Homo sapiens: one gene and its partner. The protein of the gene in region 2 purifies or fractionates together with the protein of the main gene of each other region. This does not show direct contact. Each region holds a gene or a part of one and is shown on either strand. Other genes may lie near its edges.

Region 1 (7,036 bases), on a different chromosome or scaffold from region 2:
AGCCACCGAACCTGGCCTTTTTTTTTTTGAGATGGAATCTCGCTCTGTTGCCCAGGCTGGAGTGCAGTGGTGAGATCTCAGCAAACTGCAAACTTCACCTCCTAGGTTCAAACGATTCTCCTGCCTCAGCCTCCCGAGTACCTGGGATTATAGGCGTGCACTACCATGCCCGGCTAATTTTTTGTATTATTATTATTTTTTTTTTTTTTTTTTGAGACGGAGTCTCGCTTTGTTGCCAGGCTGGAGTGCAGTGGTGCAATCTCAGCTCACTGCAACCTCCGCCTCCCAGGTTCAAGCGATTCTCCTGCCTCAGCCTCCTGAGTAGCTGGGACTACAGGTGCCTGCCACCACGCCCGGCTAATTTTTGTATTTTTACTAGAGACGGGTTTTACCATATCAGCCAGGCTGGTCTCAAACTCCTGACCTTGTGATCCACCCATCTCGACCTCCCAAAGTGCTGGGATTACAGGCGTGAGCCACTGCGCCCGGCCTCTTTTTAAAATTTAGAACAGTAGCCAGGCGTGGTGACTCACACCTGTAATCCCAGCACTTTGGGAGGCCGAGGTGGGCAGAATACCTGAGGTCAGGAGTTCCAGACCAGACTGGCCAACAGGGTGAAACCCAATTTCTACTAAAAATACAAAACATTAGCTGGGTGTGGTGGTGTGCACCTGTAATCTCAGCTACTCCGAAGGCTGAGGCAGGAGAATTGCTTGAACCTGGGAGGTGGAGGTTGCAGTAAGCCAAGATCGCGCCACTGCACTCCAGCCTGGGCGACAGAGCGAGACATCGTTTCAAAAAAAAAAAAAGAAAAGAAAAGGAAAGGCTGGGCGCGGTGGCTCATGCCTGTAATCCCAGCACTTTGGGAGGCCAAGGAGGGCGGATCATGAGGTCAGGAGATCCAGACCATCTTGGCTAACATGGTGAAACCCCGTCTCCCATCTCTACTAAAAATACAAAAAAAAAAAAGCCGGGCGTGGTGGCGGGCGCCTGTAGTCCCAGCTACTAGGGAGGCTGAGGCAGGAGAATGGCGTGAACCCGGGAGGTGGTGCTTGCAGCGAGCTGAGATCGTGCCACTGCACTCCAGCCTGGGCGACAGAGCGAGACTCCGTCTCAAAAAAAAAAAAAAAAAAAGAAAAGAAAAGGAAAAGGTCAAAGACTGACGAGATGGAGAGAAACTAGAGTCTTTGGAAGTGACGTTACATTTGAGCTAGGCAAGCAGGGGAGTAGAGGATGCTCCTGGAGCACAGATCCCGTGGCCAAAGCCTCAGCCCAAGCCTAGTGTGTGCAGTGGAACTGAGAAGGGGCCAGCGTGGCCTAGGGCGGGGAGAGGACTCAGGGAAAGCAAATGCGGAGGGAGGCAGCGGCAGCCACTTCCGGTTCTCACCATAGGTTGTCTTCTCTACCAGCCTCCCGTCCTCACGGAAGTCATCTGTAGCTTTGCCCAGGAGGCCACGCACTGTGTAATCCTTCAAGGACAGGGAGGTAAAGATCCGTCAGTGACCCCATTCTAAGCCCTAGTAGCCCCTGCCCCAGAAGCTGGGGGTGGGGGGTCCTCAGGTCTCCCTCAGGAAGCTCATGTGCCCAGCCCCTGCCCAGCTGCTCCACAGCCCCAGGAGGAAGGGCACCAGCTCTGTCATGTGGCCTTCAGCAGCTCTTGCTCTCTTTGTATTCAAGCTCTCCTGTCACCTGGGGACAGTAACAGGGCCAGTCTCACAGTACTGCTGCCTGGATTCAGCAGGACATGGTACCTGGCTCCCAGTCAGCAGGCTTCCTACAAGACTGCTGGCTGGTTTCCATGACAACCAGCACTGGCAGCCTCCAAAGGTACTGACCGCTGACAGCCACCCTGTGGCCACCCCAGGCCTCCATGTTTCTCCTCTCCAACCTAACTCGGCAATTTATCACCCCGAGCCCCTTCTAGCATGCCCTGTAGGCTTCTCTCCACGCCTCTAAATAGAATGAGATTCCATGGCCCAGATCAGGCCCTTGCTCATCCCTGCTTGTAAAAACTCCCCCTCCTCTGAATCTGTGCAGCTAACCCCATCTGCCACAGATAAGTAATGATTGGCTGGATACAGTGACTCACACGTATAATCCCAGCACTTTGGGAGACAGAGGCGGGTGGATCGTCGAGTAGCTGGGAGGACAGGCATGCGCCACCAGCCTGGCTAATTTTTTTGTATTTTTAGTAGAGACAGGTTTTCACCATGTTGTCCAGGCTGGTCTTGAACTCCTGGCCTCAAGTGACCCACCCACCTCAGCCTCCCAAAGTGGCAGGAGCCACTGAGCCCGGCCACAATTTTTAAAATTTTTATAATTTAAAAAAATTTTGTAAATAGAGATGGAGTCTTGCTATGTTGCCCAGACTGGTCTCAAATTCCTGGGCTCAAGCAATCCTCCTGCCTCAGCCTCCCAAAGTACTGGGATTACAGGTATGAGTCACCACACCTGGCCCTCATTCCCATTTTACAGATGAGGAAACTGAGGCACACAGATATTAATTAGGTAATCTACCCAAGGACACACAGCTGTCAGAGTGGTAGAAGCTGGGGTTCAAACTGAAGCCATTTGGCTCCAGAATTTGTGCCCTTAACCACTAAAAACATGGGCCCCATAACGTGGCACCTGCGTACATACTTTGTGGTATCAGACTCCATAGCCCCGACCCCACCTCTGGATGGTAAGCTCCCTGTGGGTAGGATGCTGACATCTACCTCTCAGTCTTGGGACAGAATAGGGAATGGCATCATGATCAAGCTCTGGTGTTGGAGAGACCTAGGTTCAAATCCCAGCTCTTAAAGCCCTAACAACTACATGACCTAGGTAAGTAACATCTCCTCTCTGAGCCTCAGTTCTCTCATCTGTGAAATGTGGCTAACAACAGATTCCACTTTACAGGGAGGCTGTGAGGCTTCCCTAAAGGAATCCACGTACAGTGCTCAGCACAGAGTAGTCGGCATACACTAACACTGGTAGTTATTATTGTTATTATTATTACAGCCCCTGCACAGCACACGATCATCAAAAAAATGCTTGCTTATGGCTTGGGTGTTCCCCCACGGAATCCTCTAAGCTTCAGAATCCTGCTGGTGACCCCCAGGAAAGGACCAAGGGAGAAGCAGGCTGTCCCCAGACCCTCGTACCTTGGTAAGATGAGCATTGTACATATCGGTGAGGAGCCTGCATCCATGTCCCACGCCGAGCACTGAAAAGCAGCCAGCGTCATCTCACACCTGGGACCCCCTTCCCATTCCCCTAAGTATCCCCACCCCTACCCCCACCATCAGAATACTCCCTTTTCTGATGCTGCCAAAGGCAACAAGAAGGCAAAAAGATCTTCTACAGGGGGCAGGTGCACCCCTCTGGGTATATATCACATGCAGATTGCTGGGCCTTACCCATATGCACTGAATCTGACTCATGGTTGGAGGGGGCCTAGGATCCCTGCCAAGCTCTCCACAGGATTCTGACACCTGAGAGGAAGAGATCCCTGGCCTAGTCACACAAACCTGCACTCAAATCAGGGACAGCTCTGAGTATAATCTTTAGCCTCTTTGAGCGTCAAGTTCCCCATCAGTAAAATGGGGGTAAAAATACTGTCTGAAGGCCAGGCGCAGTGGCTCATGCCTGTAATCCCAGAACTTTGGGAGGCCGAGGCAGGTGGATCACCTGAGGTCAGGAGTTTGAGACCAGCTTGGCCAACATGGTGAAACCCCATCTCTACCAAAAAATACAAAATTAACCAGGTGTGGTGCTACACTACACTCCAGCTTGGGCAACAAGAGTGAGACTCCGTCTCACAAAAAAAAAAAAAAAAAATTAGCCAGGCGTGGTGGCGGGCACCTGTAATCCCACCTACTCGGGAGGCTAAGGCAGGGAGAATTGCTTGAACCCAGGAGGCGGAGGTTCCAGTGAGCCGAGATCATGCCATTGCACTCCAGCCTGGGAGACAGAGCAAGACTCTGTCTCAGGAAAAAAAAAAAATACTGATTCCTGTGGGTGCTGTGCAGTCGGCACAGAGGAAGGGCCCAATAAACGGTGGCCACTGTGGTCACTTCCTGCCTTTCTCCCGGTCTGTTTCTCCCTCTGGCTGAGGGACAGAATAACTCTGCATTCACTCGTGGGGAGACAGAACAGGGAGAGGGGGCATGAGATCATGTCTGCCTGCCTGTGCCTCAGGAAGCAAGACAAGGGGACTGTGACTGTCGCGGCTGGAGGATGTGGGCACCACCTGACCCTGGGGACACAGATGGCTCATGACTAGGGCTTTGTGTGTCCAGACCCAGCCACATGCAGGCCCTGGCCATTAGGTCCAGAGTCACGCGCCTGGCTGCCCCATGATGCAATGATGGTTTTCCTTCTCCGGACCAGGGGTATTCACTGGCCATGGGACCCAGAACAAGTCACCTAAATCCTACTTTCTTCTTCCATAAAATCATATAGTATCTACCTAATAAAGTTGTTGTGGTAAATAAATGTGCATAAAGGGCCTCGAACTATGTCATGTGTGGGAATCACTGAATAAAGGTGGGTGACTGTGGTATTAACCTGTGATTACCTCCGTCCCACCTATCCACTCCCCAGCTGATCAGCCTTGGGGCAGGAATCAGGGCAGGAGAGGAGTGGTGGGACGTGGGTGCCAGGTAAGAAGTGGGCTGGGCTCCTGGTAGCTTCAGGATCTTTTCTCAAGCCTTATCACTGTACCCCCAGGCTTCTCACATCACCTACCAAGTACTCCAGAAGCCTGGGCATCCAACCGATGTCCCACGCCAACCTTGAGATGGGCGAATGCTGGTCCACATACTGGAAAGAAACAAACAAGGTCCATTTTCTCAACTAAATGCCACCCCAGGATGGCTTTGGGCTGCATGTTGACCTCGTTCTCAGAATGGGCCTCATGGAGCCCAAACTAGCATCAGGCCAGACTCTCAGGCTTCCCCGTCATGGAATCTGGGACCCTGAACTGTATCCTCAGTGCCCTGGGATCCAAAGGGCAGCCCAAGATGCCTCTTACTCTGCCTATCATCAGTCTCCCAGTGAGAGGCTCTAAGAAGACTGGCGTAACACTGAAGGTCAAGAGTGCGGGGTTCCCTGCCCAGCTCTACTGAGGAAGAGTCCCTGGAGGAAAATGGAGGCTGTGAGCTCCTTAAGGCAGAACCTGGGTGTGTCAACTCACTAGCTGCTCAGGAAAGAACTACTGAAAGAATAAATGCAGGAATGAGCCAGAAGTGTTTACACTTCTACAGATTAAGAGGAATCTAGGGGAAGAGTCCAGGGTAGTTAAGGGCCTATTGAATCCAGGCCATGTTACTAAATGTCAACACTGAGCCTCAGTTTTCTCCCTTGTGAAATGAAAATAGGACCCATCTCACAGCACTGTGGTGATATCAATGAGGATTGTACTTGGGGGAAGCTTAACACAATGCCTAGTACAGAGTGGCGACTCAATACATTATACTTCTTATTGTTACCATATAATAGAGTCATTGAATATCACAAGTCCAACGGGTTTTTGAGGTTTCTGGTCAAACCTCTAGATTCCCTGACACATGCCTTAATCACATCTAGTGATGGGGACACATTACCAGAACCAGTTCCATTGTTGGGCAACTTTATTCAGTAAAAAAATCACTCTTTCGGCTGGGCGCAGTGGCTCACACCTGTAATCCCAGCACTTTGGGAGGCCAAGGTGGGCGGATCACCTGAGGTCAGGAGTTCGAGACCAGCCTGGCCAACATGGTGAAACCCCATCTCTACTAAAAATACAAAAATTAGCTGGGTGTGGTGGCACACACCTGTAATCCCAGCTACTTGGGAGGCTGAGGCAAGAGAATAGCTTGAACCTGGGAGATGGAGGTTGCAGTGAGCTGAGATCACACCACTGCACTCCAGACTCCAGCCTGGGCAACAGAGCAAGACTCTGTCAAATAAATAAATAAATAAACTTATTCTTTCCCAGAAACCCAAAACCCCTACCTTAGGACTTCTACCTAGGGTCTCATTTCTCACCTGGAGTCCCAGAATAGAAAAAGGGTCAGCAAACTACAGTCCACAAGTCAAACCTGAAGACTGAAGACTGTTTTTTTTTTGTGTGTGTGTGTTTGCTTGTTTTGTTTTGTTTTGTTTTGAGATGGAGTCTCACTTTGTCACCCAGGCTGGAGTGCAGTGGCGCCATCTCAACTCACTGCAACCTCCACCTCCCAGATTCAAGCGATTCTCATGCCTCAGCCTCCTGAGTAGCTAGGATTACAGGCACCTGCCTCCATACCTAGCTAATTTTTTGTATTTTTAGTAGAGACGGAGTTTCATCATGTTGGCCAGGCTGGTCTTGAACTCTTGACCTCAAGTGATCCGCCTGCCTCGGCCTCCCAAAGTGCTGGGATTACATGAATGAGCCACCGCATCTGGCTTGTTTTTTGTGGCCTATGAGTTAAGAATGGTTTTTGCATTTTTCAGTGGTTCAAAATAAATCAAGAGACCAGTTGCAAGGGCTCACGCTTATAATCCCAGCACTTTGAGACGCCGAGGCAGGCAGATCACTTGAGCCCAGGAGTTCAATACTAGCATGGGCAACGTGACAAAACCCCATCTCTACAAAAAATACAAAAATTAGCCAGGCATGGCCGGGCGTGGTGGCTCACACCTGTAATCCCAGCACTTTGGGAGGCCGAGGCGGGTGGATCACGAGGTCAGGAGATCGAGACTATCCTGCCTAACATGGTGAAACCCCGTCTCTACTAAAAATACAAAAAATTAGCTGGGCGTGGTGGCGGGCGCCTGTAGTCCCAGCTACTCGGGAGGCTGAGGCAGGAGAATGGCGTGAACCCAGGAGGAGAAGCTTGCAGTGAGCCGAGATCGTGCCACTGCACTCCAGCCTGGGCAACAGAGCATGACTCCGTCTCAAAAAAAAAAAAAAAATTAGCCAGGCATAGTGGCCTGTGCCTGTAGTCCCAGCTACTCGGGAGGCTTAGGTGAGAAGACTGCTTGAACTCAGGAGGCAGAGGTTTCAGTGAGCCGAGATCTCACCACTGCC
Region 2 (7,036 bases):
GCTGGGATTACAGGCGTCCGCCACCGCACTTGGCTAATTTTTTGTATTTTTAGTAGAGATGGGGTTTCTTCATGTTGGCCAGGCTGGTTTCAAACTCCTGACCTCAAGTGATCCGCCCACCTCGGCCTCTAAAAGTGCTGGAATTACAGGCGTGACCCACCGCGCCCGGTGAGTTCTTTTCATTTTAGTGTTTAAAAACACTTCCCTCTAGTTCCTTGTATGTTGTTGGAGGGCCTTAACACCACTCTCAACTTTGGCCATGTGTTAAAATCACCTAGGATTTTGTTTGGCTTTACTTTCATGACCAGGCCTGACTCGACCTAAGATTTGACCTTGAGAGTTACCCCAACAGTTACTGTGTGAGCGGAGGGGACGGGCCATCAGTTGGGGTGACAGGGAAAGGGCTGCACAGTGCTTGTCATGACCGCATCCCTTGCTTCTTCCCAATTTGTTCCTGGCTGTAGTGAAAGTCACAGAGTCCACAGGATGCAGGACTTCGATGGCCAGGTGGTCCAGGTAAGAGAGATGGGCCGAGAGCTGCTTGTTGTGTTCCTGGGGTGCTTTTGAAAAGTTGAGATTTGGGTAGGGTGATGGCAAATTTGTTAGGGGGATTTTCTGAATTAAATTATTTTAGTAAAAATTGTAGCCTACTTACTATAGGCCAGGATTTATGCTAGATTCTAGGGATACAAAGTTTAATAAGATTTTGGGGCCGGGTGTGGTGGCTATACCTGTAATGCCAGCACTTTGGGAGGCCGAGACAGGTGGATCACCTGAAGTCAGGAGTTCCAGACCACCCTGGCCAACATGGTGAAACCCCGTCTTTACTAAAAATACAAAAATTAGCCGGGTGTGGTGGCACATGCCTGTAATCCCAGCTACTCAGGAGGCTGAGGCACAGGAATTGCTTGAACCTGGGAGGTGGAGGCTGCAATGAGCTGAGAGATTGCACCACTGCACTCCAGCCTGGATGACAGAGCAAGACTCTGTCTCAAAAAAAAACAGATTTTTGGGGATGACACTCTAGTGAGTGAACAAGTTAAAAAGCTAACTGAGGCCGGATGTGGTGGCTCACACCTGTAACGTCAGCCTCTGGGGAGGCTGAGGCAAAAGTATCACAGCACTTGCTGTATTCATGCATATGTGCATTGAAATATTTATGATAGGTACCTACCATGAGCCAGGCACTATTCTGGGGATGAGAATAAAATGGAGAGCAAAATACAGCTGGCTTAGAACACCACAGCACTAATCATACTGTGATACGGCTGGCTTTTTGGTTTTATTTGGAAATTTTTTAGAGGCAGGGTCTCATTCTGTTGCCTAGGCTGGAATGCAGTGGCACGATCATAGCTCACTGCAGCCTTGAACTCTTGGGCTCAAGTGATCTTGCCTCAGCCCCCTGTGTAGCTGGGTCTACAGGTGTGCATCACCATCCTCGGCTAATTATTTTAAAGAGACAGATTCTCACTGTGCTGGCCAGGCTGGTCTCAAACTCTTGGCCTCAAGCCATCCTCCCGCCTTGGCTGCCCAAACTGTTGGGATTATGGGTTAAGCCACCATGTCAGGCCTCCTTCACCTATTAGACTGAGTGACTTTGTGCAAGTTACCAGACATCTCCAAGATAGTTTCTTTTTCTTTTTTTTTATTTTAGTGCAGTGGCACAATCTCAGCTCAGAGCAACCTCTGCCTCCTGGGTTCAAGCGATTCTCGTGCCTCAGACTCCCGAGTTGCTGGGATTACAGGCATGTGCCACCATACCTGGCTAATTTTTGTATTTTTAGTAGAGATGGGGTTTCACCATGTTGGCCAGGCTGGTCTTGAACTCCTGACCTCAAGTGATCCACCTGCCTTGGCCTCTCAACGTGTTGGGATTACAGGAGTGAGTCACTGTGCCCAGCTGAGATTCAGTTTCTTACTAGGTGGTTTTGGTTATTGACTTAACACAATGCCTGGTGTAAAAATTGTTCAATAGATGGTGCTTTTCTTTAGGCAGTTAGAAAAATGAGTTTGGAACTGAGGAGAGTTGTTGAGACCAGAGATCACAGTGCAGAGGCCACAGTTAAGCATTGAGAATGGCTCCCATCTCCCAGGGTAGCATGAGGAGTGAGGAGAGAGGAGGGCAGGAGACACACCCTGGAGAGAGATCCCAACAGCAAAGGGTCTGAAGTAGAGGCTGAGTGTGTGAGCAAGGCTGGAAGCTGTGAAAGTAGAAGAGAGGGCTGGGAGGAGAAGGGTTATGGAGAAGGGGTGGTTCTTTGGAGATGGCGTGGGATGGATGGCAGAGCTCTTGGATTTGCCCCTTTGGAGATCTGCATTTTACTTTAACAAGAGCAGTTTCAATGCAGTGGGAGACTGGTAGATTGAGAAGGAGTAAGATGAGCATGGAGCAGTCTGCCTGGACCATGCTCCAGGTGCCCAGGAGCGGCAGGCGATGGTGCTGGTCCTTCTTTGGATGAGGACACCAGGGTTCTAAGTATTTCCTCTCATCCCCCTTACCTCTGTTTGTCTGCTAGGTCGCCTGTGGTCAGGATCATAGTCTGTTCCTGACGGATAAAGGAGAAGTCTATTCTTGTGGATGGGGTGCTGATGGGCAAACAGGTAGAGTTCTTTTCATGCACTGGGGTCGTGAAACTTCTCAGCCCGTGTCATGTGGAGCTGTGAGCTGTAGGGCATTTATGGGCTAGAACCCTTCTTCCTTAATTCAGCTCTTACCTCTTATCACTTTCTGAGGAACACTATTCTTGGCTCCATCGCCCAAGCTGGAGTGCAGTGGCGCGATCACATCTCACTGCAGTCTCAAACTCCCAGGCTCAGGTGATCCTCCCACCACAGTCTCCAGAGTAGCTGGGACAACAGGTGTGAGCCACCAAGCCCAGCTAATTTTTTGTAACAACAGGGTTTCGCCATGTTGCCCAGGCTGGTCTTGAACTCCTGACCTTAAGCAGTCTGCCTGCTGTGGCCTCTTGGTGGGCTGGGATTCCAGGCAGGAGCCACTGTGCCCTGCTGTAATACTTTTTTTTTGCATCCCTTCCATTCCCCTCAGCCCTGGCTCCCATAGAAATGAACTGAGAGAAGGCTGGGTGCAGTGGCTCACACCTGTAATCCCAGCACTTTGGGAGGCCGAGGTGGGCGGATCACTTGAGGTCAGGAGTTTGAGACCAGCTTGGCCACCATGGCGAAACCCCATCTCTACTAAAAATACAAAAATTAGCTGGGTGTGGTGGCACACGGCTGTAATCCCAGCTACTAGGAAGGCTGAGGCAGGAGAATGGCTTGAACCCGGGAGGCGGAGGTTGCTGTGAGCCAAGATCGCGCCATTGCACTCCAGCCTGGACAACAGAGCAAGACTCTGTCTCAAAAACAAACAAACACAAACTGCAGAGAAAAGGACAGGCAGGACCTGCCCAAAGGCAAATGTCATTATTGGCACTTGGTATGGGGGTAACCCCTGGCCAGCAGCCCAAGGCAGAGCACTGAACTGTAGACTCTTGCCTTCATCCAGGGTCCTTAAAGGGGCCTATTCCTCAGCAGGTGAATGGATCAACCGTGGTGCATCCAGACAATGTAAAGTTTGTTATTTAGCACTAAAAAGCAATAAGCTGCCAACCCATGGAAAGGCATGGAGGAAACTTAAATGCATGATACTGATTAAAAGAAGCCTATCTGAAAAGGCTACATACTATAGGATTCTAGCTATATGGCATTCTGAAAAAGACAAACTATGGAGACAGTAAAAAGATCGGGGCCGGGCGCGGTGGCTCATGCCTGTAATCCCAGCACTTTGGGAGGCCTAGGCAGGTGGATCACGAGGTCAAGAGATCGAGACCATCCTGGCTGACACGGTAAAACCCATCTCTACTAAAAAATACAAAAAAAATTGGCTGGGCATGGTGGCGGGCGCCTGTAGTCCCAGCTACTCAGGAGGCTGAGGCGGGAGAATGGCATGAACCCACTGTGCCCAGCCTCTCTGCTTATTGTTAACCATGCCATTTTAAGTTCCCTGTTTTTTGGGAGTGGTGTTGGGGATGGCATGGGCTCTTAGAGATTTTCTTTACTTTTAGCAAGACCACCAGTGCATTAGAAATTGCTTGTTGTGATCAGGCAGGTGGCTCACACCTGTAATCTAAGCACTTTGGGAGGCTGAGGCAGGAGGATTGCTTGAGCCCAGGAGTTCGATACCAGCCTGGGCAACATAGTGAGATGCTGTCTCTATTTCAATATAAAAAAATTTTAGACCAGGCGCAGTGGCTCACGCCTATAATCCCAGCACTTTGGGAAGCTGAGGCAGGCGGATCACCTGAGGTCAGGGGTTTTGAGGCCAGCCTTGCCAACATGACGAAACCGCATCTCTGTGAAAAATACAAAAATTAGCCGGCTGTGGTGGTGCGTGCCTGTAATCTCAGCTACTTGGGAGGCTGAGGCACAAGAATTAAAGAACTGCTTGAACCCAGGAGCTGGAGATTGCAGTGAGCCGAGATCGCACCACTGCGCTGCAGCCAGAGGAACAGAGTGAGACCGTCTCAAAAAAAAAAAAAAAGTTGTATGAGCATGCAACTAAGCAGATTAGGGTTTCTTTTCTTTCTTTCTTTTCTTTTTTTTTCTTTTTTTTTTTTTTTTGAGAGTCTCATTCTTGCCAAGGCTGGAGTGCAGTGGTGTGATCTTGGCTTAACTGGAACCTCCACCTCCTAGGTTCAAGTGATTCTTGTGCCTCAGCCTTCTGAGTAGCTGAGATTACAGGCATGTACCATTATGCCCTAATAATTTTTTTGTAATTTTTTTTTTTTTTTTTAAGTAGAGACAGGGTTTCGCCATGTTGACCAGGCTGATCTCGAACTCCTGACCTCAAGTGATCTGCCCATCTCAGCCTCTGAAAGTGGTGGGATTACAGGCGTGAGCCACTGCACCCAGCCCCAGACTGGGATTTCTGAGCTGATACTTGTTAAGTGCTTAAAACTGCACTTGGCATATAGTAAGTCTGCCTATGTGTTTGTTAAAAGAGCGAATAATTAAAAATCTGTATTTTCCACTGTGTTAGGTCTGGGTCACTACAATATCACCAGCTCGCCCACCAAGCTGGGTGGAGACCTGGCGGGAGTGAACGTTATCCAAGTTGCCACCTACGGTGATTGCTGCCTGGCCGTGTCCGCCGACGGAGGACTTTTTGGTTGGGGAAACTCGGAGTACCTGCAGCTGGCCTCTGTCACTGACTCCACACAGGTATGCAGTCGCCGACAGCGTGGTGCTGGGAGGTTTGGAAACATTAAAGTGTTAAGGGGCCGGGTGTGGTGGCTCACACCTGTAATCCCAGCACTTTGGAAGGCCGAGACAGGCAGATGGCTTGAGGTCAGGAGTTCAGGACCAGCCTGGGCAACATGGCAAAACCCCATCTCTACCAAAAAAATACAAAAATTAGCCAGGTGTGGTGGTGCATGCCTGTAATCCCAGGTACTGGGGAGGCTGAGGCATGAGAATTGAATCGCTTGCAGATTGCAGTGAGCTGAGATCGTGCCACCACATTCCAGCCTGGGTGACAGAGCAAGACTCTGTCTCGAAAAAAAAGAGCAAATAGGCTGGGCGTGGTGGCTCACGCCTGTAATCCCAGCGCTTTGGGAGGCCAAGGCAGGCAGATCACCTGAGGTCAGGAGTTCGAGACCAGCCTGGCCAACCTGGTGAAACCCCGTCTCTACTAAAAAAAAATACAAAAATACCACCTCCACCTCCTGGGTACAAGCAATTCTCCTGGCTCAGCCCCCCGAGTAGCTGGGACTACAGGCACTTGCCACCACGCCCAGCTAACTTTTGTATTTTTAATAGAGACAGGGTTTCACCATGTTGGCCAGGCTGGTCTCGAACTCCTGACCTCAAGTGATCCACCTGCCTCCGCCTCCCAGAGTGCTAGGATTACAGGCGTGAGCCACCACACCCGGCCACAAATGTCATTTTATGTTAATTTTGGTTGACATCTGCCTCGTCCACTAGACTAGAACTCTCTGAGGGTGGAAACTGGGCCTCTTTTGCTTCCCATTCTACCCCAGCACCTAGTATGATGCTTGGCATGTGATGTTCAGGAAGTATCTGTGGAGTGAATGAATGAACTAGGACTCAGCTACTCTGTACCTAAGACCAGAACACTTCCCGGTCCTTACTGGCTTGCTTTCCTAACAGTGTGGCTCCTTTCTTTGGTTCAGGTGAATGTGCCCCGCTGCTTACACTTCTCAGGAGTGGGGAAGGTGCGACAGGCTGCATGCGGTGGCACGGGCTGTGCAGTGTTAAACGGTGAGACCTTCTTTCCGGTGGCTCATTGGGAAGCTGTAGGTAGATTACATAGGGAGTGGTCAGTGTCCATTGGATTTGCAGGCCGTAGACCTTAGCCTTAGGAGGGTAACATGGCTGGGCGCGGTGGCTCACATCTGTAATCCCAGCACTTTGGGGAACTGATGCAGGAGGATTGCTTGAGGCCAGGAGTTCCAGACCAGCCTGGACAACATAACGAGACCCTGTCTCTACCAAAAAATGGAGAAATTAGCTGGAAGGCTGGGTGTGGTGGCTCACACCTGTAATCTCAGCACTTTGGGAGGCCAAGGCAGGCAGATCACCTGAGGTCAGGAGTTCAAGACCAGCCTGGCCAACGTGGTGAAACCCTGACTCTACTAAAAATAGAAAAATTAGCCAGACATGGTGGTACATGCTTGTAATCCTAGTACTTGGAAGGCTAAGGTGGGAGGATTGCTTGGACCCAGGAGGCAGAGGTTGTAGTGAGCCGAGATTGCGCCACTGCACTCCAGCCTGGATGACTCTGTCTCAATAGAAAAAGAAAAAATGAAAAATTAGCTGGGCATGGTGGTGCACACCTGTAGTCCCAGCTACTCAGAAGGCTGAGGCAGAAAGGTCCCTTGAGCCCAGGAGTTCGAGCTGCAGTGAGCTATGATCATGCCACTGCACTGGGCAACACGGTGAGACCCTGTTTCAAAAAAGGAAGGGACTATGGCCATGGGAAGATGGCATTGGATTAGAAGATGGCATTACAGGGTGT

Evidence for each region. Proteins that work in one complex are often made in the same cells at the same time.
Region 1: the proteins of RCC1L (region 2) and TRUB2 purify together in Homo sapiens (affinity purification with mass spectrometry; 3 studies listed by BioGRID and IntAct, with this or other methods). This does not show direct contact.

Annotation. Positions count from the first base shown.
Region 1 is NC_000009.12:128,312,421-128,319,456, forward strand, and holds part of TRUB2 (pseudouridylate synthase TRUB2, mitochondrial), read right to left. Parts: intron 4,807-7,036; coding exon 4,732-4,806; intron 4,480-4,731; exon of another isoform or gene 3,406-4,479; coding exon of another isoform or gene 3,402-3,405; exon of another isoform or gene 3,209-3,401; coding exon 3,147-3,208; exon of another isoform or gene 3,004-3,146; intron 1,828-3,003; exon of another isoform or gene 1,678-1,827; intron 1,486-1,677; exon of another isoform or gene 1,470-1,485; coding exon 1,388-1,469; exon of another isoform or gene 1,131-1,387; intron 1-1,130. UniProt on the Homo sapiens protein: Minor enzyme contributing to the isomerization of uridine to pseudouridine (pseudouridylation) of specific mitochondrial mRNAs (mt-mRNAs) such as COXI and COXIII mt-mRNAs.
Region 2 is NC_000007.14:75,056,772-75,063,807, reverse strand, and holds part of RCC1L (RCC1-like G exchanging factor-like protein), read left to right. Parts: intron 1-464; coding exon 465-516; intron 517-2,516; coding exon 2,517-2,601; intron 2,602-5,038; coding exon 5,039-5,220; intron 5,221-6,191; coding exon 6,192-6,279; intron 6,280-7,036. UniProt on the Homo sapiens protein: Guanine nucleotide exchange factor (GEF) for mitochondrial dynamin-related GTPase OPA1. Activates OPA1, by exchanging bound GDP for free GTP, and drives OPA1 and MFN1-dependent mitochondrial fusion. Plays an essential role in mitochondrial ribosome biogenesis.